7 linked regions of the Homo sapiens genome follow. The protein of the gene in region 1 interacts with the protein of each later gene in a pairwise test. Each region holds a gene or a part of one and is shown in the gene's direction. Other genes may lie near its edges.

Region 1 (3,500 bases):
TTAGGTGTAGATCCAGAAATCCCAAAGTATTCTGGTATCAGAGTGTGAATCACAGACCTGCAGAATCCATATCACCTGAAAGCTTTAGAAATGCAGAATCTCAGGCCCCATCCTGGAGCTACTGAATTAAAATCTCTATTTTAACACGATCCCTAGGGATTCATATACACATTAAAGTTTGAGGCCAGGTACAGTGGCTCACGCCTGTAATCCCAGCACTTTGGGAGGCTGAGGCAGGCAGATCACTTGGGGTCAGGAGTTTGTGACCAGCCTGGCCAACATGGTGAAACTCCGTCTCCATTAAAAATGCAAAAATTAAGCAGGTGTGGTAGTGCGCACCTGTAGTCTCAGCTACTTGGAATGCTAAAGGAGGAGAATCGCTTGAACCCAGGAGGTGGAGGCTGCAGTGACCCGAGATTGTGCCACTGCATTCCAGCCTGAGCAACAGAGCAAGACTGTCTCAAAAAGAAAACATTGAGAAACACTATTTTAGTCAACTACGTTGTTCAAAGAAGGAAGAGAGGAGACTTGAGCTAGATAGGAGGGGTGAGTAAGCCCAGGCTTGAGGGCCAAGTCAGTTAATGATAAGAATGGCTTAAGCAAAGGAATGCTGGGAATGGTTCAAGTGATAGAGATTTCACGTTGAGGGTTAGGTGTTGGTAAGAAATGAGTTAAATAGATAAATAGAGGGTGGGTGTGGTGGCTCATGCCTGTAATCCTAGCACTTTGGGAGGCTGAGGCGGGTGGATCTCTTGAACCCAGGAGTTCAAGACCAGCCTGGGCAGCATGGCGAAACCCCGTCTTTACTAAAAATACAAAAAATTAGCCAGGTATGGTTGTGTGCACCTGTAGTCTTAGCTCTTCAGGAGACTGAGATGAGAGGATCATCTGAGCCCAGGAATTCGAGGCTACAGTGAGCTGATGTCACACTACTGCACTCCAGCCTGGGCGATAGAGCAAGAAACCATCTCAAAAATATATGTATAATAATAATAATTGGAGCCAGTACTAAGGAGACCTGTATATCAGGCCAATTAATTTTCATTTGATACTCCAGCAGTAGTCATTGATGATTTTTGAGCTGAAGAGCAATTTGCTGAAAGAGCAGCATTTTAGGAAAGTTTAGCTAGTGACAGTGTCTGAGAAAATTGGGAGGGTGACAGAGTATAAGCAAGAATATAAACAGAGGAGGAGTTTTAGTAAGACAGGCATCAAGTGATGAAACTTGGTCTAAGTATATGACCATGAGAACAGAAATTACAGAAGAGGCATTTCAAAGGATGGATAGAAAAACACTGGTTTTGGCCGGGCGCAGTGGCTCATGCCTGCGATCCCAGCACCTTGGGAGGCCGAGGCGGCCAGATCACCTGAGGTCAGGAGTTCGAGACCAGCCTGGCCAACATGACGAAACCCTGTCTCTACTAAAATACAATAAATTAGCCGGGTGTGGTGGTGGGCGCCTGTAATCCCAGTTACTCAGGAGGCTGAGGCAGGAGAATTGCTTGAACCCAGGAGGTGGAAGCTGCAGTGAGCCGAGATTGCACCACTGCACTCCAGCTGGGGTGACAAGAGCGAAACTCTGTCTCAAAAAAAAAAAAGAAGAGAAAAATACTGGGTTTCTTACTATACTGGAGTATTAGGTAATTTAAGTAGTGGTGCTATTGACAGATAAAGGATGTTAAGAGTGGTGTGGTGGAGAATGACGAGTATTTTATTATACACATACAGAAAGCCTCCTGATTGACTTCTGTCTTAATCTGCTCCTTAGTCTATTTTGGTGATCATCCGTCTCACAGTTACGTCTCACCTTTTGCCTTGCAAATAACATTGTTCTACTTTCTTGCCTATCTGTGTCTAGCACCTTTAAAAGCCTGGTTTAAACCTTTGATCATTCACTCTCCACTTGTAGCAATGTTTTCTTGTAGATGCCAAAAAAGTGATTACTGACTTTATATAGATGTATTTGCCAGGTATATTATATCTGATCACTAATAGTATTTTAGATTTTTTTGTTGTTGTTGAAATGGAGTTTTGCCCTATCACCCAGGCTGGAGTGCAGTGGTGTGATCTTGGCTCACTGCAACCTCTGCCTCCTGGGTTCAAGCAATTCTGCCTCAGCCTCCTGAGTAGCTGGGCTTACAGGCACATGCCACCACGCCTGGCTAATTTTTGTATTTTTAGTAGAGACAGGGTTTCACCATGTTGGCCAGGCTGGTCTCGAACTCCTGACCTCAGTTGATCCGCCCACCTCAGCCTCCCAAAGTGCTGGGTGTATTACAGGCCTGGGCCACTGCACCCAGCCTTTTTTTTTTTTTTTTGAGACAGTATTGCTCTGTGGCCCAGGCTGGAGTGCAGTGGTGCAATCTTGGCTCACTGCAACCTCCACCTCCTGGGTTCAAGGGGTTCTCCTGCCTCAGCCTTCCAAGTAGCTGGGACTACAGGCACATGCCACCACACCCGGCTAATTTTTTGGATTTTTTATAGAGATGGGGTTTCATTGTGTTAGCGTGGATGGCCTCAATGTCCTGACCTTGTGATCTCCTCAGCCTCCCAAAGTGTTGGGATTACAGGCGTGAGCCACCGCGCCCGGCCCTAATTTTTGTATTTTTAATAGAGACAGGGTTTCACCATGTTGGTCAGGCTGGTCTCTGACCTCAAGTGATCCACCTGCGTTGGCTTCCAAAGTGCTCAGATTACAGGCGTGAACTACTGCGCCTGGCCGTGTTTTAGATTTGATCAGGCTAAGAGGGTATTCTTTTGAATGTTTGTTTTTTTCTCTGTTTATTTACATTTGCTTTAGGTTAATAGTGTTTTCTTCAAATGCAAAAGATATATATATATATATATATAGGGATATTTGTCTTTATCCACACTAGCTCCATTTATTTTACATGAGCCATCTTTTCAACAATGGACAGGAGAGTGTAATGAATCCCCATGTACTCATCACCCAGCGTGAGCAGTTATCAACTCCTGACTGCTTATTATGTCTAAATTCCTGCACTATATTATATAGAATATTCCTGCATATTATTTTGGCATAATCCCTGACATCGTATCGTTTTGTTTGTAAATACTTAATGTGTATCTCTAAAAGATCAGAATACTTGATGAAAATCATAGTACCATTATCACACCAAAAAAATAGTAATGTCTTAACATCACTTGATGTGCAGGTTATTGTTTACTTTTCCAAATGGAAATGAGCACCTTTTGAAGAACATAACTTTCAAACTTTCTGGTACAGACTGCAGTTTTTAAAAGATATTTCCAGTGTTATGTTTGCTGATCAGAAGACTATCAACTTTTGATCACCATTATTATCACAGAATAGATAATATATGAATGCCTCCTTAATCTCAGACTAACCACACTCTACCACCCTACTTTCTTTTTCCATCAGAAAGCATTCTAATTTTAAAATTATTCTAAGTCTAATAAAATTGAGAAAGTAAATGTACTGAAAGTGTTATAATGAATTAATAAAAGCCAAACTTCAT
Region 2 (3,500 bases), on another chromosome or scaffold:
GTATAAATAATAAACTTAAAAATCATCCATAACAACACCCAGAAATAGCCACAAATGAATATTTTGAAGTCTTTTTCCTTCTTTTTCAGTATTTTCTTTTTTTCTTTTTTTTTTTTTTGAGATGGAGTCTCGCTCTGTCGCCTAGGCTGGGGTGCAGTGGCGCGATCTCTGCTCACTGCAAGCTCTGCCTCCCGGGTTCACGCCATTCTCCTGCCTCAGCCTCCAGAGTAGCTAGCTGGGACTACAGGGGCCCGCCACCACACCCGGCTAATTTTTTGTATTTTTAGTAGAGACGGGGTTTCACCGTGTTAGCCAGGATGGTCTCGATCTCCTGACCTCGTGATCCGCCCGCCTCGGCCTCCCAAAGTGCTGGGATTACAGGCGTGACCCACTGCGCCTGGCCTGTATGACCCGTTTTACATGAAATGGCCAGACTAGACAAATCTACAGAAACAAAGTAGATTAGTAGTTGCCAGGGGTCGGGGAAGGGGAGAATGGGAAATGACTGCTACTGAGGTTTTTTTTTGGGTGATGAAAATGTTCTGGCGTTAGATAGTGATGATGGTTGCAACAACTTTGTGAATTTATGAAAAAAACACTTAATTGTACACTTTTCACCCCACTTCCTCTGCCATCTTGGTCCTGCTGTCCTGAGGAGCTACCTGTGCACCCTGCCTCCGGCTCTCCTGAGCAGAGAGGTAAGCTTGTCTCTGCCTTAGGTGGAAATGGCCACTAGAGTCCACTTGCTCAGCACTGACTGCCTTTTCTCTCCCACCTGTTCCCACTGGTTTTCTCCCTGGGCACTCTCACTTGCCCTTGTCTGTGCACTGGAGGCCGAGACTGAGCTGCAGGGTTTGGGCCTCAGGCCCGTTTGGGAGAGGAGGCTCCTGCTGGGTAGGTCCGGGAAGGGTTGACAGGCTGAGTAGGGAATGACTCTGCTCTGCCACAGATCCTGATGGCTGACTCAGAAGCACTCCCCTCCCTTGCTGGGGACCCAGTGGCTGTGGAAGCCTTGCTCCGGGCCGTGTTTGGGGTTGTTGTGGATGAGGCCATTCAGAAAGGAACCAGTGTCTCCCAGAAGGTGAGTCCTTTCTTCCTCCTCCTTCCCATCAAGCTTTCTTTCTTTTCTTTTCTCTTTTCTTTTTTCCTTTCTTTTCTTTCTCCCCCCCCCTTCCTTCCTTCTTTCTTCCTTCCTTTTTTCCTTTCTTCCTTTCTTTCTTGACAGAGTCTCGCTCTATCGGCCAGGCTGGAGTGCAGTGGCACAATCTTGGCTCACTGCAACCTCCGTCTCCCGGGCTCAAGCAGCTCTCCTGCCTCAGCCTCCCGAGTAGCTGGGATTACAGGCATGTGCCACCACGCCCGGCTAATTTTTGTATTTTTAGTAGAGACGGGGTTTCACCATGTTAGCCAGGCTGCTCTCGAACTCCTGACCTCAGGTAATCTGCCTGCCTCGGCCTCCCAAAGTGCTGAGGTTACAGGCGTGAGCTACCACGCCTGGCCCAAGCCTTCTCTTTCTCTTTCCAAATCTGGCTCAGAACTTTCCTCCTTTGATAAGATTTCTCCCCAGAATTCATCCCTGCCCCCCTGGGTACCTCAGGGATTTACATTCTGGGTCTTACTGTGTTCACTACTCTTGTTCATTTTCAGAGTTTTGCTTTGGAAATATCCCGAAGTTGTTTTTAGTGCAGGTTGGCCGTGTCTCGTGTCTGTGGAGGTGTGGTTTGACAGCCAGTCCACAGGCATCCCAGGCCCCCAGCATCCCCGGCTCTCTTCCTAGGTCTGTGAGTGGAAGGAGCCTGAGGAGCTGAAGCAGCTGCTGGATTTGGAGCTGCGGAGCCAGGGCGAGTCACAGAAGCAGATCCTGGAGCGGTGTCGGGCTGTGATTCGCTACAGTGTCAAGACTGGTGGGCCCTGGCTTCTGTGAGGAGGAGACTTGGGAGTTTGCCCTGAGCTCTACTCTGAGCTCCCTGGCTTACTCTCCTTCTCCAGGTCACCCTCGGTTCTTCAACCAGCTCTTCTCTGGGTTGGATCCCCATGCTCTGGCCGGGCGCATTATCACTGAGAGCCTCAACACCAGCCAGTGAGCATCCCAAGGCCCCTCTACCATCCCACAAAGGATTTAGGTTTGCTAGAGAGGTGCCTGAGGGGTAGGGGAGGAGAATGGTTCTGCCCTCTCTCTACTGCTTCTGGGAATCCCTGTCGGCAGAGAGTTTTTCCTCATATCCTTTGGACCCACTTTCTCCAAACTTTCTCAGGCCTCCTGACCCCTGTTTTCTCTTTCTTGCTTCCCTGGTTCTGTCACCAACTCGTTCTTCTCCTTGGACTGTTGCTTTGCTCACTCTTCACTGCCTCCTTTTTGTGACTCCTGTGCAGTTTAAGGGCCTGTCTGGGCAGTCCCTCCCCATCTCTCCTTTCTCGTCGTTCTCTCTCCTGGCAGGTACACATATGAAATCGCCCCCGTGTTTGTGCTCATGGAAGAGGAGGTGCTGAGGAAACTGCGGGCCCTGGTGGGCTGGAGCTCTGGGGACGGAATCTTCTGCCCTGGTTTGTGAGAAGGAGGAGGACCTTTCTTTGCCCTTTTTATGAGTTCCTCCTCCCCCACCGTTCTCTTGCTCTAGTGTCTGGCAGGGAGGGATGATTCCTCTTTGATTCCTCTCCAGCTGGACCCAGGCCAGGCCAGGGAGGCGGCTGCCTGGTCCCTTCATGCTCATGTTTGTCACCATTCCCTGGGGTCAGTGGTCTAGTTCCTGCTATCTCCGGACGGGGGCTGTCTCTTGGGGGCAGCCCCAGATGTGGAGAGGTGTGGTCAAGAGGATCTGCTGATCCTGGATCCATTCTGGGATGGTATGATCCTGAGAATTGTGGCCTGGGAGCCAGTCATACCTGCTTCTTTGATGAGCTCTTCTGGTAGAAAGGGAAGGGAGGCAAGCTCCAGTCTTGACCCACTGCTCCTTCCTCTTGCCACCGCCCCCTCCCTGTGACAGGTGGCTCCATCTCCAACATGTATGCTGTAAATCTGGCCCGCTATCAGCGCTACCCGGATTGCAAGCAGAGGGGCCTCCGCACACTGCCGCCCCTGGCCCTATTCACATCGAAGGAGGTGGGGAAGAGGCACAGGCCCAACCCTGGGCTCCTGATTCTAATCTCCAGCCAGCTAAGTAGAGACCTTCCAGGTCTTCTCCCTGCCCTCCCTACATCCTCCAAGGCCAGCCTGCCCCCAGGCGGATGTGCTTCCTTCCAATCAAGGAGGTCAAGTAACTGCTCCTGTTCACATTGCCTTCTGTTTGGGGGCAGAGGAGGGGCCGTGAGTGCAGTGGACACAGTCCATACTCTTCCTACTCAAGAGTGTGGTCTGTGGACCAGCAGCATTGGTATGACCTGGGGCTTGTTAGAAATGCAGAATCTGGCCGGGCACGGTGACTCACGCCTGTAATCCCAGCACTTTGAGAGGCTGAGGTGGGTGGATTGCCTGAGCTCAGGAGTTTGATACCACCCTGGGA
Region 3 (3,500 bases), on another chromosome or scaffold:
TTGGGAAGCCACTATTCTGCCATTCACTCTGGCTTAACTTTTTTTTTTTTAATTGAACTTTTCACTGAAACATAACAATATGGGGAAGGTGCCCACATCACACCTCTAGGCCACTGTGGGGTCAGGGTAGGGGCAGCACACACCCAGGTCATGGCTGTGCAGAGAGGGCTGGGTACCAGGGCAAAAAGAGAGTCCTGCCATGAAGGAGGAGGAGGGAATGCATTTGTTCATTCATTAAGCATGTATATTGAGCTCTTGCTGTGGGCTATAGATACAGTGGTAAGCAAGGTGGACGGAAACCCCTACCCTCAAGGGGTTCCCAGTTAGTGAAATGGACAAAATAAGGCAGACCAAAGCACTCTAATATGCCACGGGTCATTTTTCTTCCTCTTAGTGATGTACATTGCAGCTATTCCTGTTTGTGGGGAGCAGTTAGGTTCCTTTACATCTAGAGTGAGGTGGCACAACAGCATATGCTGTCGGGAAGAAGCTGGGTATCAGCCAACTTTCCCCATGCAGCACGTTTTTCTCTGTTGCCACCTGGCATTGTGGAGGCCACTGTAGCTGGAGCCTGGGTGCCACACTGCTCCTTCCAAGTCCAGTGCCTCTGTGTGTCTGAGTGCTCTCTCCTGGGCATCCGCTCTGCATCCTCCTCTGTGCTCCCCTCACAGACTCCATTCATACTCCTTGTGCCAACTGTTTTTTCCTCCCTCTCCTCTTCCTTTCCTTATTCTGTTCTTTCCTCTTCCTTTCCTTATTCCTTATTTTCCTCTTCCTTATTCTGTGTTTCCCTCTCTTCCTTTCCTGGTTTGCAAAACTATATTTTTAAATGGTCAAAGCCACTTGAACCTTGAACGTTTCAAAATAATTAGTTTTATCCTTCCTCTTCCCATCTCACCACAAACTCTTTTGCCGTGGAACAGAGATTAAGGGACATTTCCAGTTTTTGCTTCTTTCAGACTTGGAAACTAGACCCAAAGTCAAACTGTCAGTTCTAAAGCAAGGCATCTCTGAAGAAATATCCAACAGTGTCATCTTGGTAGAAAGATTCCTGTGGGATGGTCTGTGGTACTGCAGGGGTGAGGACACTGAGGGCCACTGGGAATGGAGTTGTGAGAGTCTAGAGAGCCTGGCAGTGCCGGTGGCCTTCACGCCTGTGAAGACGCCTGTTCTGGAGCAGTGGCAGAGGAATGGGTTTGGGGAAAACATAAGTCTGAACCCTGATCTCCCACATCAACCAATGACTCCTGAAAGACAAAGCCCCCACACATGGGGAACACGTGGAAAAAGGGAGAAGCCAGACCTAAATGTTTTACAGAAAACCTGTGTAAAAGAGAAACCCTACAAATGTCAGGAATGCGGAAAGGCCTTTAGTCACAGCTCAGCACTTATCGAACACCACCGGACGCACACAGGAGAGAGACCTTACGAATGTCACGAATGCTTAAAAGGCTTCCGGAACAGCTCGGCACTTACCAAACACCAGAGAATCCATACTGGGGAGAAACCCTATAAATGCACTCAGTGTGGGAGGACCTTCAACCAAATTGCCCCACTGATCCAGCACCAGAGAACTCACACAGGTGAGAAGCCCTATGAATGCAGCGAATGTGGGAAATCCTTCAGTTTTAGGTCCTCCTTCAGCCAGCACGAGCGAACTCACACAGGCGAGAAGCCCTACGAGTGCAGTGAGTGTGGGAAAGCCTTCCGGCAAAGCATCCACCTCACCCAGCATCTGCGAATCCACACTGGGGAGAAACCCTATCAGTGTGGTGAGTGTGGCAAGGCCTTCAGCCACAGCTCATCCTTGACCAAACACCAGCGAATCCACACAGGGGAGAAGCCCTACGAGTGCCATGAGTGTGGAAAAGCCTTCACCCAGATCACACCACTGATTCAGCACCAGAGGACCCACACAGGAGAAAAGCCCTATGAGTGTGGTGAGTGTGGGAAAGCCTTCAGTCAGAGCACACTCCTGACCGAGCATCGGAGGATTCACACAGGAGAGAAGCCCTATGGATGCAACGAGTGTGGGAAAACCTTCAGCCACAGCTCCTCACTCAGCCAGCATGAGCGGACACACACAGGAGAGAAGCCCTATGAGTGCAGTCAGTGTGGGAAGGCCTTCCGGCAGAGCACACACCTCACCCAACACCAGCGAATCCACACAGGGGAGAAGCCCTATGAATGCAATGACTGCGGCAAGGCATTCAGTCACAGCTCGTCCCTCACCAAACATCAGCGAATCCACACTGGGGAGAAGCCCTACGAATGCAACCAGTGTGGCAGAGCCTTCAGCCAGCTTGCTCCCCTCATTCAGCATCAGAGGATCCACACAGGAGAGAAACCCTATGAATGTAACCAGTGTGGCAGAGCCTTCAGCCAGAGCTCCCTTCTCATCGAACACCAGAGGATTCACACCAAGGAAAAGCCGTATGGGTGCAATGAGTGTGGGAAATCCTTCAGCCACAGCTCCTCGCTCAGCCAGCACGAAAGGACGCACACTGGGGAAAAGCCCTATGAGTGTCACGATTGCGGAAAGTCCTTTAGGCAGAGCACCCACCTCACTCAGCACCGGAGGATCCACACAGGAGAGAAGCCATATGCATGCAGGGACTGTGGAAAGGCCTTTACCCACAGCTCCTCCCTTACCAAGCACCAGAGAACTCACACTGGATAAACCCACTCCACATGTGCTGGGGACATAGGAAGACCTTAAGCCATAGCTCATCCCTTTCTAGATTTGACCCAATCATACACATGAGAAACGTACATTCATACACAAGCCTTTTCACACAGCACTCCCCTCAGACACCCTCAGAGAGTTCACACTGATGGGAAATGACCATGGGACCACCAAGCTCTAGGTCATCCATCTCTGCATCCAAATAGTAGGGAAACGTGGAGATAATCAACACTCAGGACCTTCAGCCTTGAACGCCCATTAGTGCTATGTTATAGAACCTACAAAAAAGAAATGGAACAAATGTAGTGGATCCAGGGAACGCTTTTGTCCAAGGATTCACCGTATTCCAAACCAGAGATGTTCAAATTGGTGAGAAACCCAACAAATGCCTTTCATATATACGAGAACCAAATGAAGTCAGAATTTGCCATTATTGCACATCACATTTTTGGGGGGGAAAGTGCTTATGAATGGTGCAGGTTGACTCTGATATTCATTCCCAAATGACAGTATGGCAGAGTGTTCCAGAAATGAGAGTGGCATCTTTATGGAATCACTGTGGATACTGACTGTCTCAGTAAACAGCTGTCTTGTCTGTGTGTATATTGTTTGATCAGGGTACATGGCAGCCAGTCACAGATTGGAATTACATATGACAAAGTATCAGTGTACTATAAACAGGTTTTTAGTTATCCCTGCATTATTTTTGCAATTAATCTTTATATGCAATGAGATTGAAAAGCTTTGTATGGGAAGACTCAAAATGTAAAGCTGCTTCCGTAGAGTCTCACTGATTCTGAGATGGCTTTTGCTG
Region 4 (4,044 bases), on another chromosome or scaffold:
ATTGCGTATGCGTATTGGCTTATCCTCTCTCTGTCTGCCTGTCTTTCTGTTCCATATACATCTGCCTCCCCCAGGGGCAGAGGCTGTGTCTTAATCACCTGTGTAGCCCCAGCACCTGGCACAGTGCCTGACACCCAGGAGATGCTCAATAAATGGCTGCTATATTAATACATGAGCAGCTTAAGGGGATGGAGGGCGAAGGTAAATGCTCTTGCGTACTCATCGCAGACCACAATGTGCCCAAATGTCTTCATGTGTGGTTTGCAGCTCCCCAGGCAACTGCTTACTTCCCTTACTTACTGATTTCACCAGGAATTACTTGTTTTGTTTCCTTAAGATCTGTGCATGGCACAGCCCCTCCCACAAGGGTAAGGCCATATGGGTTGAATCTTGGGGGGTGTTGGGTACATTGTGGCACCGGGAAGAAGCCTTGGGAGTCAGTCCTTCAGCAGATGCCCTCATGTGACCAGGATATGAGGTTGGGTGTCCTTAAGCAATTATGTCCATTTCCTGTGTCTCCTTATAAAATGGTGGCTAGGGAACTGGACATCATTCTCAAAGCTATGACGTTCAGCAAGGTATGTGATGGCTTTTAAGGAGCACGGGAAGATCACATCCTGCTGTATTCCGGGTTAGTTTGAGTGAGTACATGTGTGACAAGGACAGCCCAGTGTTCCTGTATATGTGACTGCAGATATCCTTAGCTAGTGTAACAATGTTGAAAGTGATGTGAGAAGGGGTATGTTTCCCAATGTGTATCCGCCGGGGGCTGTAACTGTCGTGGTGTCACAGTGAGTTTATGTACTGGCGCCTGTGTGTGTCAAGATATGTGTGAGCCTGTGAGTCGTGGGTGCATGTGTCGCCATCATTTCTCTGTTTGAATGTGTATGTGCATGCCACTGCAATGTGCGCATCTCTGCGATTCTGGGTGTGGGTGTAGTGTGAAGGGGAAGATGTGTGTCACTGTGTCTGTGGGGGTCCTGCCTCTAAGCCACCCCCAGCCTGCCCTCCTCCCCCGGTTCTGTGGCTCCCTCCCAGGCTGTGGCCCTGCCCCTTCCCTCTTCTCCCTCCCAATCCATCCACGCGGGGGGAGCTGGTGCTGCGCCCCCCCCCACCCCTCCCCATCCAGGCCCCATAAATAGCAGCAGAGCCGGAGCTGGAGCCGGCGCCAGCGGCTGGAGCAGCAAGGGAGTCAGGGCCAGGGCCAGAGAGCCGGAGAGAGGAGCCCCCGACCGAGAGCCCAGGTGAGCCCACCCTTCCTCCCCAGCCCAGCCCCAGCCCAGCCCAGCTTGGCCCAGTCTCCATAACAACATCTCCTGGAGCCCGCAGAGAGATCCCAGCCCTGCCCAATCCCTTCACCACCACAAGCCCCTGCCTATCTCGGGGACCCCCAAGAACTGGGAGACTTGTGGCTGGAAGGCAGAGACCCCCCTCCCCCAGCCCAGACCCTCCCTCACATATCCAGAAAGGCACACACTGTGGGGAGGTAGATACCCAGCCAGAGAAAGGTCCCACTTCTGAGGGAGGTACAGGAACTGTCACACCCTCCTGGAAACGGACACACGACATGGGGGGACAGACACGGAGGGTGGGGCACTCAGACACACCAATGCACACTCACTCGGGGAAGCATGACATGGGATCAGACAGCCTCACCCTGAGATCTGTACAGACACAGATAGATGGACTGACCGGCCATGAACTCTGGCCGGCATACCCCTGCCTGCTTCAGCCCGAGGCTTGGTACCACTGCTGGGGGAAGGTGGCATGCGTGCATCCCACGGGCAGCATGGAGGGAGCCACGACTCCCCAAAAATCCTGTCGCTAAGAGACGGTGCCAGTGCTGCCAAGAAGTGTGAAAACAGGGGAGGTGGGGAGGGATGTGAGGCTTGTCACAGTTAGAGCTCCTGCCAGGAGCCTGAAGGAGCTTTCAGCAGAGCCCTGGTCCTGCCTCCCAGCCCACCACCACTCCTTTTCCATCAGCTAGCCAGAAGGGGAATGGGGGTAGGGAGTGGATAGGGATAGCCCAGCAGGGGACTTTCCAACCTGTCTCCTGCCCACTGCAGACTCCACTTCTGAGACCCATCCTCTTCAGAACTCCAGAGGCCTCTCCACCCCCTGCCCCACCCCCTTGCCCTAGTTTAGCTCCCTCGTGCCAAGACTGAGTGCAGCGCTGGCACAACACCAGTCGGGAAATAGCAGAAGGTGCTGAGGCGGCAGAAAGTGTAGATCAATCGATGGCCTAGGAGCCAAGACTGCCAGGAACATCCCCACCCCAATCCTTCAGCCCTCTCCAGCCCCATCCACGCATACCTAGGCCAGCAGCACAGGGCTTCTGAGCAGGAGTGGGAGGCTCAGGTCCTCTGCCCTCCCCTGCTCAGAACTCTGGTGAAGCTGAGGAAGCAGGAGGTCCGTGAGGCCCCAGGGTCTAGGGAAGGAGGTTAAGGGGTGGGGCCCAGGGACCCTAGAGGATAGACCCCTCTGCTGGCAGGTGTTCCCTTTCCAGAGTCCAGGCCACCTGCTCTGTCCCCACAGTGACATGTCGGACCCTGAGATGGGATGGGTGCCTGAGCCCCCAACCATGACGCTGGGGGCCTCTCGGGTGGAGCTGCGGGTGTCCTGCCATGGCCTCCTGGACCGGGACACACTCACCAAACCCCACCCCTGCGTGCTGCTCAAGCTCTACTCTGATGAGCAGTGGGTGGAGGTGAGAGCAGCTCAGGTTTCTCCTTAACTAACCTGGGTTAAGCTTGGGAAAGAGGGAGGCTGGGTGGGAGCAGTGAAAGCCTTGCAGGGAAATGTGTGGACTCTGCGGCGCCTTCTCGAGGCCGCTTGGGTACCCTGGAGATGGTGTCCCAGAGGGTCCTGAGATTGACCCAGAGGCAGTGGGGTTGCTCCCAAAGGCCTCATGATAGCCCGGAGGACTGAGAGTCCAGTGGGCAGGCAGCACCCCAAGCTCAGGGATCAGCTTAGGAAGAGAAGAGCTGGTTGCTGGGGACGTGGGGGCCCAAGAAGAGCTGGCATGACTAGGGCAGTCCAGGACAGGGAAAAGTATCCTCGGTTCCCAGACAGCCCTCGCCTCCCTTCAACCACTACCACAGGTAGAGCGCACAGAGGTGCTTCGCTCCTGTTCCAGCCCTGTCTTCTCCCGGGTGCTGGCCCTTGAGTATTTTTTTGAGGAGAAGCAGCCCCTGCAGTTCCACGTGTTCGATGCCGAGGACGGAGCCACCAGCCCCCGAAATGATACCTTCCTCGGCTCTACGGAGTGCACCTTGGGCCAGGTCTGCATTCCCGGCCTCCCCGGCTACCCTACCCTACCTCCATCAGCTTTGCCTCTGGAAGCCAAAAAGAGAGAAAACATGAGCTCTAGAGCTAGTTCAACCCAGCCTTGGCTCCCATCTCTGCCATTCACTAGCTGTGCAGCCTCAGGAAAGATACTTAACCTCTCTGAGTCTTAGTTTTCCTATCTAAAAAATGGAGGAGTGGTCAGAGTGCTTCCCTCTTCAGACTATTGTAAAAATTGAGCCCAACCCTAGCCCAACTCAAAGTGCCAACCCTTGCAGACACTCAGAGCATTTATTATTCCATCCCTTGTACGTGGCCAAGGCAGATGGGGATGTCACAGCTGGGTCTCCCTCCACCTCCATCCCCAGATTGTGTCACAAACCAAGGTCACTAAGCCATTATTGCTGAAGAATGGGAAGACTGCGGGCAAGTCCACCATCACGGTAGGCAAGATCACCTGTACTCACCCTTGGTCCAGGTATTCAATGCCCCTGCATGGACACCTATGGTGACATCATGCCCAGGACCACCCCCACCTAAGGGAAAGGGGATGGGGTGGCCCTTGTGGTAAGGTTAGGGGAGTCCTGCCACTTGTATCCCCCTTGCAGATCGTGGCCGAGGAGGTATCAGGCACAAACGACTATGTGCAACTCACCTTCAGAGCCTACAAGCTGGACAACAAGGTTGGAACCCCAGAGTCCAGGCCCCCAACTCCCCTGTCACTCCTAGGCCTCCCACTCAAGACAGATCCCAGGAGCC
Region 5 (3,500 bases), on another chromosome or scaffold:
ATGGAAGCACGTCCATAGTACCTGGGCTACAGCTTGAAGGAGCTCTCAGTGAACTAATCTGGGACGAGTTGAGCAATGAGATAAATAGTGATAGTAAAGTGTTACCCATATGATAAATCTACACTGATCTACTATAGATCTACACTGATACAACTAAATGATTAAATAAGTAAATAAAATAAATAGAGGAGAAAGGGCAGTTCTTGCTCACATTAGAACTCTAATAAATGTAGAAGGAATGAAAATAGAAAATTACTTTTAGTCAAACATCACAGTAAGTTATAAGCAAGAATTATCAACAGATGCTAAAAATAGTGACTGAAAAAATTATGGAAGTATGATGAATCTTTATTTGCATAGTCTTCAAACTGTCTCTTCAAATGGTACTTTTTAGTGACAAAATGGTACATAACACTTTGTGGTAGAGAAACCTGGCAGAGAACACCTTAACCAAGTGATCAAAGTTAAGGTCACAGCACCAGAAAAAGTCATGTCAACATCATGAATCCCTTAATACAAGACACTGAAAATGGCAGAACATCACTTTGGTGACATTTGCAAAAAAAAATGTATAACTTCAATCTAATAATAAGGAAACATCAAAAAACCCAAATTGAGGGATATTCTACAAAATCATAGCCAGTCAACTTCTAAAATGTCAAAGACATGAAAGACAAGGAAAGAATAAGGAACTATCAAAGATGCAAGGAAAATACAGAAACATAATGACTAAATGCAATGAGGAATCCTGGATTGGGTCATGGAGCAGAAGGACATTAGTGGGAAACTGGTGAAATGTGAATAAGGAGTGTAAATTAGTTATCACTCTACCAATGTTAAAATCCTTGTTCTATGGTTATGGAAAATTTTAACTTTAGGGGAAATGATATATGGGAACTTTCCATACCCATTGTACATCTTTTCTGTAAGTGTATTTCAAAATAAAGTTATTTTTAAAGAAAGCCAGTGACCCAATTTGTAAGACAGCCTTAAAGAGAAACCAGGCTTTAAAAAACGTATATGAAAAAATGTTCAAGCATAGAAAACAAAAATTTAACCCATATTGTAAAGTTCAGCATAGCTAACTACCTAAAAACTGCTTTCCATTTCATCTTTTTCCTTGCACACAAGGGAACAACACCCTGGACATGGCTCCAGAGATCAACTTGCCGGGCCCAATGAGCCTCATTGATAACACTAAAGGGCAGCTGGTGGTGAATCCAGAAGCTCTGAAGATCCTATCTGCAATTACGCAGCCTGTGGTGGTGGTGGCGATTGTGGGCCTCTATCGCACAGGCAAATCCTACCTGATGAACAAGCTGGCTGGGAAGAAAAACGGTGAGTGACACCAGCAAAGCTCTAAGCCCCTTCTGTCCGTACACACGGCGAACATCCAGCTTAGGGATGTGAGCATAGAAAGAGATGAGAATGAATGTTGAAAGCTAACTTTCAGTCCATTAATGGGCTCTTTACATTGACTTTGGAGGATTACAGTCAACTGACTCTTCCCACTTTACTTTTATTTTATACTAAGGGTATAAATGTGCCTTTCTGGAAGGAACACAATGTTAATAAAGAAAATTAACTTCTATAATAATGACTTATAAAACATTTATTAAAATGTTCATGTAGTGACAGCAAGCTTTCAATGAACTTTAAGAAAAATATGAATGTTTCAGTGTGTATTAAATATCTAATTTTCCTGTTTCCAGGATTGTAATTAAGATTTATGCCAGTTGTATTTTCTTTTATCTCTTTTAACTTCAATTATGTTAACTTTTATCTCAATTTCCAGAAACACCTACTAAGTAATTTCTTTTCCCTTTTATCCTCTCCTTCTACAGGCTTCTCTCTAGGCTCCACAGTGAAGTCTCACACCAAGGGAATCTGGATGTGGTGTGTGCCTCATCCCAAGAAGCCAGAACACACCCTAGTTCTGCTCGACACTGAGGGCCTGGGAGATATAGAGAAGGTAAAAAAAATAAGTATTTTAAAAATTTCACTTAGGTAGATTAAAATCTACATAAACCAGGTCAGATCGATAACCATCTTTGCACAATCACTCCTACTCCTTGATTTAGGGCTCTAGTTAATTATATTAATATATTATTTCTTAAAATTTGTGTGGTATAAGCATTCAGAGTACACAATAAGTTCAATTGATTAATTATGGGTAAACCTATGAAATAATGGCTAATGATGTTTTCAGTTATTTCTCTTTCATATTATAGTAAAATGTTTTGGTGAGGCTGCTGAAGGTGCTTATAAACTTCAGTAGACGTTTTACAAACATGTCTGACTTTTTACAGTGGGATCCCACAAAGGTAGTAAAAATGTTCACATCCACACCAGCACCAGTAGAAAGAGAAGCAAAGTGTAAAATCTAATGATAACATCTTTGCTCATTAAGGATAATATATTACTACTGTTATAAATCTTAGACATAGAAAGCTTTTATTAAAGGAGCTTATTTTAACTACTGTGTAAAAAATATCTTACTATGATGTGCCATGGAAATGGAATAGGGTCATAAACTAAGTTTAGGGTACCAGTTTGAATTTTAGTAGCTGATCAAAATAGCTTCTCCTACCAAGTGCTCATGTGTTTCCTGCTGACATATATTTATATATAACACCTTAAATTATACATCATAAATATTATAAATTTGTTCTACAGGTAGAAAAAAATACTGCATAAGGAAGTGAGTTACCTAAGTTTTCAGAACTAATGAGAGACAGAGTTGGAGTTCAGTCAGTCTTCAGCTATCTGAATTGATTGTACATTCTGCTAGTCATTCTTCTTTGTGGCTTCTACAATGACTTACAGGGTGACAATGAGAATGACTCCTGGATCTTTGCCTTGGCCATCCTCCTGAGCAGCACCTTCGTGTACAATAGCATGGGAACCATCAACCAGCAGGCCATGGACCAACTTCAGTATCCTTTTTTGTGGTCCAGAACAGCAGTAAACCTAGAAAATAACAGCTTCATTTTTTCACCAAGTACAGAGGCAGACAGACAGGTACTGAAGAATTCATAAGTCCTCTCTTTAATAAATCTCATTATGCTGAACATCTCATTCTATCTCAATCTCCATCTGAACTTCAAGTCTTCCCAGTTACATGTCTCGTTAGATACTCAGCCACCCAAGACTCTGTATATCCTCTATCTGACTTAATCTCCTATGCCTGTCCAAACCTTCAATGTCCTCTAGAACTCATGTTCTCACTTCTGCAACTCTCTATATTCTTATCATCTGCTCTAAGTGTTGCCTTCTAAATGATACCTAGCTATACACTATAGATACTATTTCTCCTACAGACCTCTCCAGTGGTCTTATGTGATGACTATTTTTAATCCCATACCTTGCATATCATAAGTGTAAGAGATGAGTTAGGTATCCTCCTTGCTCCATATTAGAGTTCTGGACACTTTCTCATTCCTTTACCATTAAAAAGAGAATCTTCTTTAATATATATGCCCTCAGACTACACCACTATT
Region 6 (2,750 bases), on another chromosome or scaffold:
CTCAAAAAAAATAAAATAAAGATAAAATCATAAACACTCATAATTCAGTTATACCTTTTTTCAAGTAACTAAAGTTCAAACTTACTTAGGGGAACAGGCTTTCCTGGGTGCCACCTGCTTCTCAAGTCCTGTGCTTTCCACACCACAGAATAGTAAACTGGGTGCACTGAGTGCCTGGTTCCCCTCAGCCCTTAACCAGTGCTGGCTTGTCCGAGTTTAGAATCCCAGGGCTGACTTTGTTGGTGGAATGCTAGCTCCCATTCATTTCCCACCTGCACTGGACGTTTTCTGAATCTCCTTGAAGTCCGGGAGATCTTCATTCCAAAGCTCTTCACTTTTCTGCAGCATTGTGACCCCATCTGGCTGGGGAACTGGAAGTCCTGCTCAGAGAAAAGCAGGAGGGGACATGGAGTTCTGAAATTCACTTTCTGCTCCCATGTCTGGAAGTGACAGGTGAAATGAGAATGATAGTGCCTCTCAAGAAGGTCTAGTTCCCAGAAGAGAAAGTTTAATGACTCATTTTCCCCCTTTTACTCCTTTGAGGGTACAGGATAATGCCCTTATCTATTTTCATAATAATTATAATGATGATGATAATGAAAACTAACGTTTGCCAAGTGCTAATACTGTGTCAGGATCCTCATAACAGCCCAGGGAGGTAGAAACCATCACAATGTCCACTGTCCAGATGAGAAAATGGAGGCTAAGGGTATTTAAAGAGGTTGCCCAAGAACAACAAACCTTTTAAATGGCAGACTGGTGTGTATAATCTACGCAGGGTTCACATCTATGGAACACTTTATTTTAAATTCTTTTAATAATATTATTATTTTTCAGCTGAGTCTGGGTCTCACTCTGTCGCCCAGGCTGGAATGCAGTGGCATGATCACAGCTCACTGCGGCCTCCAACTCCTGGGCTCAAGTGATTCTCCTGCCCCAGCCTCCCGAGTAGCTGGGACTACAGGCTTGCGCCACCATGCCCGGCTTATAGGGCACTTTAGATGGAAACAAATGACTGGATCTTTAACTCCTACCTTTCTCTCCTCTCTTCCTGTAATGTTGTTACTGAAGGCAGGAAGGGAGACTCCTTGGCTAAAGAGCAGAGCAAGAGCCTCAAAGTGGTCTTTGTGAGCCACCCTGGACTACTGGTTCAGTAGAGGGTTGAGTCAAGCAATATTTGAGGACGGGATATAAACAGTATTTCTTAAAGTTGTCACCAATTTTTCCCCCGATGAGGCCATTCCAGACCCAAATTAGTCATAACAGAGCCAGGACAATAATCACATCTCCTGATTCTGAGCCTGAATGCTTCCCACAGGACTGCGTCGCTCCCACTGCTCTGAGGTCCATTGTGGGGGAGAGTTGCCACTGGGATTCCACCTCAAGGCCTGGGGACCAAGCCTCCAGGATTCCTCTTGAGACTCCTCCACTATTTCATTACCATCCCGCCACATCTTCTAGTGCTATGCCCTGGTTCCCTTTGGAATCCTCTCAATCCCAAAGAAGGCCTCCTACCACCTCTAAGGCATCAAAGGTGTTAGAAAGTGCCCCAAGACTCAACAGGGCATCCATCTCATCATAGAAGACACTGGTGCCTGGTGTGTAGGTGCTCCTGGCTTTGCAGTAGTCGGTCAGGAGGTTTTTGAACCGATAGCAACATTGCTCCAGGGTCCACAGGAAGCCATGTTCTCACAGCTGCTCAGCCATAATCCGGTACACCTGGTGGTTTCGATGGCAGGTGCGGAGTTTTTCGTGGATCCAGGCCTCTGAGAATTCCCAGAAAAATCTTGGTTTCTTTGTATCCCCAGTGCACTCCTGCCACCTTCTCATCCTCCAGGGCCTGCCACTCCAGCTCGCTCCAGGTCTTGGCTTTTCTCCAGATTAGCACCTGGCCAGACTTGACTCTCACCCCAGCCACTGAGCAGTCTTTCACACTCTCTTTTTCTCCAGAATTTGAAGATCTAGATGCTGTGGGTTTTCATCCTACTCCACGTGGGAGTTCACTTTGGGCCTATGGATTGGAAAATCTGTTTGCAGGCAGACAAAAGGGAGATGTAATGGTTTGGTAAATCTAATCCCAACCATTTTATATGCCAGGGAGAGGAGATAGTAATTTTTTTTTTTTAATTCTGGGGGGATTCTTGGGAAAGCTCAGTGAAAAGAACAACTAGAAAAAAAAATTCAGGCCCAAATGCATAACTATATATCCACGTTCATCTATCTTAAATAAAATTCAGACACATACCTAAACTGACCATCTCCCTAAAATGAGCTTTCCTTTCTGGGTCAAGAAATTCATCCTTGGTGAAACTGACTATGGTATTGGATTTCCTTTGAGTAAGATTTAAGGAAGAAATAGATTTGAAATATTCAACCCAGGGGGAAAGGGTGGGAGCAGGGGGGTGAGGGATAAAAGACTACACACTGGGTACAGACTGAGGGGATAAAAGACTGCACACTGGGGCCCCGTGGTGGCTCAGGCCTGTAATCCCAGCACTTTGGGAGGCCGAGGCAGGCAGATTACTTAAGGTCAGGAGTTCAAGACCAGCCTGGCCAACATGGTGAAACCCCATCTCTGCCAAAAAAAAAAAAAAAAAATACAAAAATTAGCTGGGCGTGGTGGCACATCTCTGTAATCCCAGCGACTCAGGAGGCTGAGGCAGGAGAATCACTTGAACCCGGGAGGCAGATGTTGCAGTGAGTCAAGATCATACCACTCCACTCCAGCCTGGGTGATAGAATGAGACTCA
Region 7 (3,500 bases), about 58 Mb from region 1:
GTTTGCCAGGCTGGTCTCGAACTTCTGACCTTAGGTGATATGCTTGCCTCGGCCTCCCAAAGTGCTGGGATTACAGGTGTAAGCCAGTGTAAAGAGTTAAATGTACTCTTTAACTTTTTGGTCCACCCAAGCGTGGAAGTGGCAAACCACTATAAAACTTTCATGAATTACAAAAAACATGGGGGAAGAAGGGATTGTCAGTTTTAATTAGTGAGACTATATTCAGACAAGTATAATTTTATTATTTTCAAACAATGTTTGGCAATTAGAACCAGGCTAATAGAGGATTGCCTAAAGACATCTTTATATAACTTACTTTAACACACGATTTGCAATTAGAATTAGGGAGTAGGTCTTTATAAAGAGCTTGAAGGAGCCTGGAAAGACTTTCTACATAGATAAAAATTAACCTCAGTCCAGCTTCCTATATGAATTATTAGAAATAGTCCAGATTACTGAAGATTTCTGTTCTGCTATGGGTGGCAGTGGTACAAAAAGGTGACCTGGAGGATGATTTTTTTTTTTTTTTTGAGATGGAGTTTTGCTCTTGTCACCCAGGCTGGAGTGCAATAGTACGATCTTGGCGCACTGCAACCTCCACCTCCCGGGTTCAAGCAATTCTCCTGCCTCAGCCTCCCAAGTAGCTGGGATTACAGGCGTGCATCACCACGCCCAGCTAATTTTGTATTTTTAATAGAGACAGGATTTTACCGTGTTGGTTAGGCTGGTCTCAAACTCCTGACCTGAGGTGATCCCCACCTCTGCATCCCAAAGTGCTGGGATTACAGGCGTGTGCCACCATACCTGGCTAATTTTGTATTTTTAGTAGAGATGGGGTTTTACCATGTTGGTCAGGCTGGTCTTGAACTCCTGACCTCAGGTGATCCCCTGGCCTCGGCCTCCCAAAGTGCTGGGATTACAGGCCATGGTGCCCGGCCTGGAGGATGAATTTCCTAGGAGCTTTCACCGTTGGATCTGAGGTTAAGATGCTCAAGGATCTTTAATACTTCCCTCATTTTGCTGTGTTTTTGCCTTCTGTTACTTTCTTCTGAAGGGCTTTGGGGACATTGAGGACAGGCCAAATTGTTGAAGAATTATTTAGAACCCACTGTCTTCTCGCTGTCCTTTTGATGTCCGGCTTCTCCAGTTATGAAATACATTTGGTATTGGTCATGATCTCTTACTGAGCTAATGTTATGGTCCATTGTTGGAGACAGAGTCAAATAAAATTCGTGTTGAACTTTGGTAACAAAACCAAATCTGTCCCCTTGCTTAACCAACATTGACTTACAGAGAGCATATACTTCCTAGAAAAATAGATGTTTCTCATAGCTTTCCGTTAAGAGAGCTTTTCCCTCAATATTCACTGGAAGCAGCTACTAAGAAGATTTATATAGGAACCAAAATAAACATAGGTGAGTATGTTTTTGTTGGCAGATACATGACTAAATTAGTCCCTGGGGTAGACATGAAATAGGGTTAAGACCTTTTTTTTTTTTTTTTTTTTTTTTGAGACCAATTCTCGCTCTGTCCCCCAGGCTGAAGTGCAGTGGCGCGATCTCGGCTCACTGCAAGCTCTGCCTCCCAGGTTCACGCCATTCTCTTGCCTCAGCTTCCGGAGTAGCTGGGACTACAGTAGGCGCCCGCCACCACGCCTGGCTAATTTTTTTGTATTTTTAGTAGAGACGGGGTTTCACCATGTTAGCCAGGATGGTCTCCATCTCCTGACCTTGTGATCCGCCCGCCTCGGCCTCCCAAAGTGCTGGGATTACAGGCGTGAGCCACCGTCCCCGGCCTAAGACGTTTTTAAGAGTTCTTTTTCTTAGAAAGATTGAAGATCTGGTATTGGACAAAGATGAAAACTTTGGAATTCTTTTAACAAAGAACATAATCTGTCTTCTACCATCCCCAATTTAGGGGGTAAAAAAAGGAAGTTCTTCTTTGGGCACTATGTTGTTGTATCTGACTTCATATGTCTGTTGTTGAAATTGAGTTGGGAACTTCCCCTTTGTCAGCTGTGTGGTATCAGTGGGAAAATGCAGAAACATTATGACTTGCAATAAGTTTTTCTTATGGAAAATTTAGGGATAACTCAAAGCTGCCCTTTCTGAAATTTGATCTGTTATCAACTGTATAAATCTAAATGGAAAAATAGATTAACGACAGTCTTTGCCTGAGGGACCTCCTCAAATCAAGAACTACTGTTTGAAATGATCAAGTGTCTGCTAAGACTTGCATCTGAATGGGTGATGTCACCCTTTGGCCCAGAACAAATTTTTTCCAGGGTTGTCTAAATATAGGACACATACTTTGCCATCTTTGTTTGTTAGTGCAAATGTACGTTATACATCTATACTAGTTAAAATCACTTTATTTTAACAGAACCAAGTTCTACTCCAAGTTCAAGAAATTGATTGTTGTTTTCTTTGAAAACATGTTAATGACGTTTTAAAAATACGCTTATTCAAAAATCAAACAATAGGGCCAGGTGTGGTGGCTCATGCCTGTCATCCCAGTGCTTTGGGAAGCCAAGGTGGAGGATCGCTTGAGGCCAAGAATTCAAGATCAACCTGGGGAACATAGCAAGACCCTATCTCGATGAAATAAAAAATGAGCTAGACATGGTGGTGCATGCGTATAGTTCCAGCTACTTGGGAGGCTGAGATGGGAGAATTGCTTCAGCCCAGAGAGCTGTGATCGCACTACTGTACTCCAGCCTGGGCAACAGAATGAGACTCTGTCTAAAAATATACATATATATATATCTCTCTCTTATATGTATATATTTATATATATCACATATATAAATATCAAAAGATATCAAATATATAGATATATAAATATCAAATATATAGAGATATATAAATATCAAATACAGATATATAATATCAAATACATAGAGATATATAAATCAAATATATATATAAATAAAATATATATATATATCAAACAATAAGGTATATAAGGTAGAGTGAAAGCCCCTGGTCACCTTATTTCCCAGAGCTGTCACCACTGATAGTTTAATGAACTCACTTTTTAATATGTGTGTGTGTTTAACATCGCTGGGATCTTACTGTACCTGGGTGCATTTGTTACCATGTATGTTTCGCTGACTCTTATTGTTGTGTGCTGGAACTTTCTGGGGTGATAGTAATCCAGTTGGGCAGTCATCAACACATGGAGCACTTGCATGTGACAAGTGTGACTGAGCTGAATGTTTTTATTTTATTTGAATTAATTTAAATTTAAATAGCTCCATGTGACTAGTGGCTATCATACTGGACAGCTCAGATCATATTCAGTCTTTGAATTTTGTTTATAAGCTTTCTTGGTACTCAAAAATTTCTGTATTTTATTTCCTGTCTTTGGTAGAATATGTCTAGTTTTCATTCTTTTTTTCTTCTGTGGATTATCTGTACACTTTTTTTTTTTTTTTTTTTTTGAGACAAGGTCTCACTCTGTCATCTGGGCTGGAGTGCAGTGGCACAATCTCAGCTCAC

The links.
Region 2: the proteins of ANXA7 (region 1) and CSAD interact in a two-hybrid assay, tested with the Homo sapiens proteins (one large-scale study listed by BioGRID and IntAct).
Region 3: the proteins of ANXA7 (region 1) and ZNF135 interact in a two-hybrid assay, tested with the Homo sapiens proteins (one large-scale study listed by BioGRID and IntAct).
Region 4: the proteins of ANXA7 (region 1) and CPNE6 interact in a two-hybrid assay, tested with the Homo sapiens proteins (one large-scale study listed by BioGRID and IntAct).
Region 5: the proteins of ANXA7 (region 1) and GBP2 interact in a two-hybrid assay, tested with the Homo sapiens proteins (one large-scale study listed by BioGRID and IntAct).
Region 6: the proteins of ANXA7 (region 1) and WDR73 interact in a two-hybrid assay, tested with the Homo sapiens proteins (one large-scale study listed by BioGRID and IntAct).
Region 7: the proteins of ANXA7 (region 1) and NMT2 interact in a two-hybrid assay, tested with the Homo sapiens proteins (one large-scale study listed by BioGRID and IntAct).

Annotation. Positions count from the first base shown.
Region 1 is NC_000010.11:73,404,059-73,407,558, reverse strand, and holds part of ANXA7 (annexin A7), read left to right. Parts: intron 1-3,500. UniProt on the Homo sapiens protein: Calcium/phospholipid-binding protein which promotes membrane fusion and is involved in exocytosis.
Region 2 is NC_000012.12:53,170,926-53,174,425, reverse strand, and holds part of CSAD (cysteine sulfinic acid decarboxylase), read left to right. Parts: intron 1-655; coding exon of another isoform or gene 656-698; intron 699-949; coding exon of another isoform or gene 950-955; coding exon 956-1,081; intron 1,082-1,777; coding exon 1,778-1,904; intron 1,905-1,989; coding exon 1,990-2,080; intron 2,081-2,437; coding exon 2,438-2,544; intron 2,545-2,551; exon of another isoform or gene 2,552-2,984; coding exon 2,985-3,100; coding exon of another isoform or gene 3,101-3,249; intron 3,250-3,500. UniProt on the Homo sapiens protein: Catalyzes the decarboxylation of L-aspartate, 3-sulfino-L-alanine (cysteine sulfinic acid), and L-cysteate to beta-alanine, hypotaurine and taurine, respectively. The preferred substrate is 3-sulfino-L-alanine.
Region 3 is NC_000019.10:58,065,782-58,069,281, forward strand, and holds part of ZNF135 (zinc finger protein 135), read left to right. Parts: intron 1-923; coding exon of another isoform or gene 924-959; coding exon 960-2,680; 3' UTR 2,681-3,500. UniProt on the Homo sapiens protein: Plays a role in the regulation of cell morphology and cytoskeletal organization. May be involved in transcriptional regulation.
Region 4 is NC_000014.9:24,070,398-24,074,441, forward strand, and holds the start of CPNE6 (copine-6), read left to right. Parts: upstream 1-1,244; intron 1,245-2,535; coding exon of another isoform or gene 2,536-2,539; coding exon 2,540-2,707; intron 2,708-3,101; coding exon 3,102-3,281; intron 3,282-3,653; coding exon 3,654-3,728; intron 3,729-3,893; coding exon 3,894-3,968; intron 3,969-4,044. UniProt on the Homo sapiens protein: Calcium-dependent phospholipid-binding protein that plays a role in calcium-mediated intracellular processes. Binds phospholipid membranes in a calcium-dependent manner. Plays a role in dendrite formation by melanocytes.
Region 5 is NC_000001.11:89,119,615-89,123,114, reverse strand, and holds part of GBP2 (guanylate-binding protein 2), read left to right. Parts: exon of another isoform or gene 1-1,131; 5' UTR 1,132-1,148; coding exon 1,149-1,338; exon of another isoform or gene 1,339-1,844; coding exon 1,845-1,972; exon of another isoform or gene 1,973-2,826; coding exon 2,827-2,936; exon of another isoform or gene 2,937-3,500.
Region 6 is NC_000015.10:84,638,785-84,641,534, reverse strand, and holds the end of WDR73 (integrator complex assembly factor WDR73), read left to right. Parts: 3' UTR 1-2,250; downstream 2,251-2,750. UniProt on the Homo sapiens protein: Component of a multiprotein complex required for the assembly of the RNA endonuclease module of the integrator complex. Associates with INTS9 and INTS11 in the cytoplasm, stabilizing the INTS9-INTS11 heterodimer and blocking the active site of INTS11.
Region 7 is NC_000010.11:15,162,194-15,165,693, reverse strand, and holds part of NMT2 (glycylpeptide N-tetradecanoyltransferase 2), read left to right. Parts: intron 1-3,500.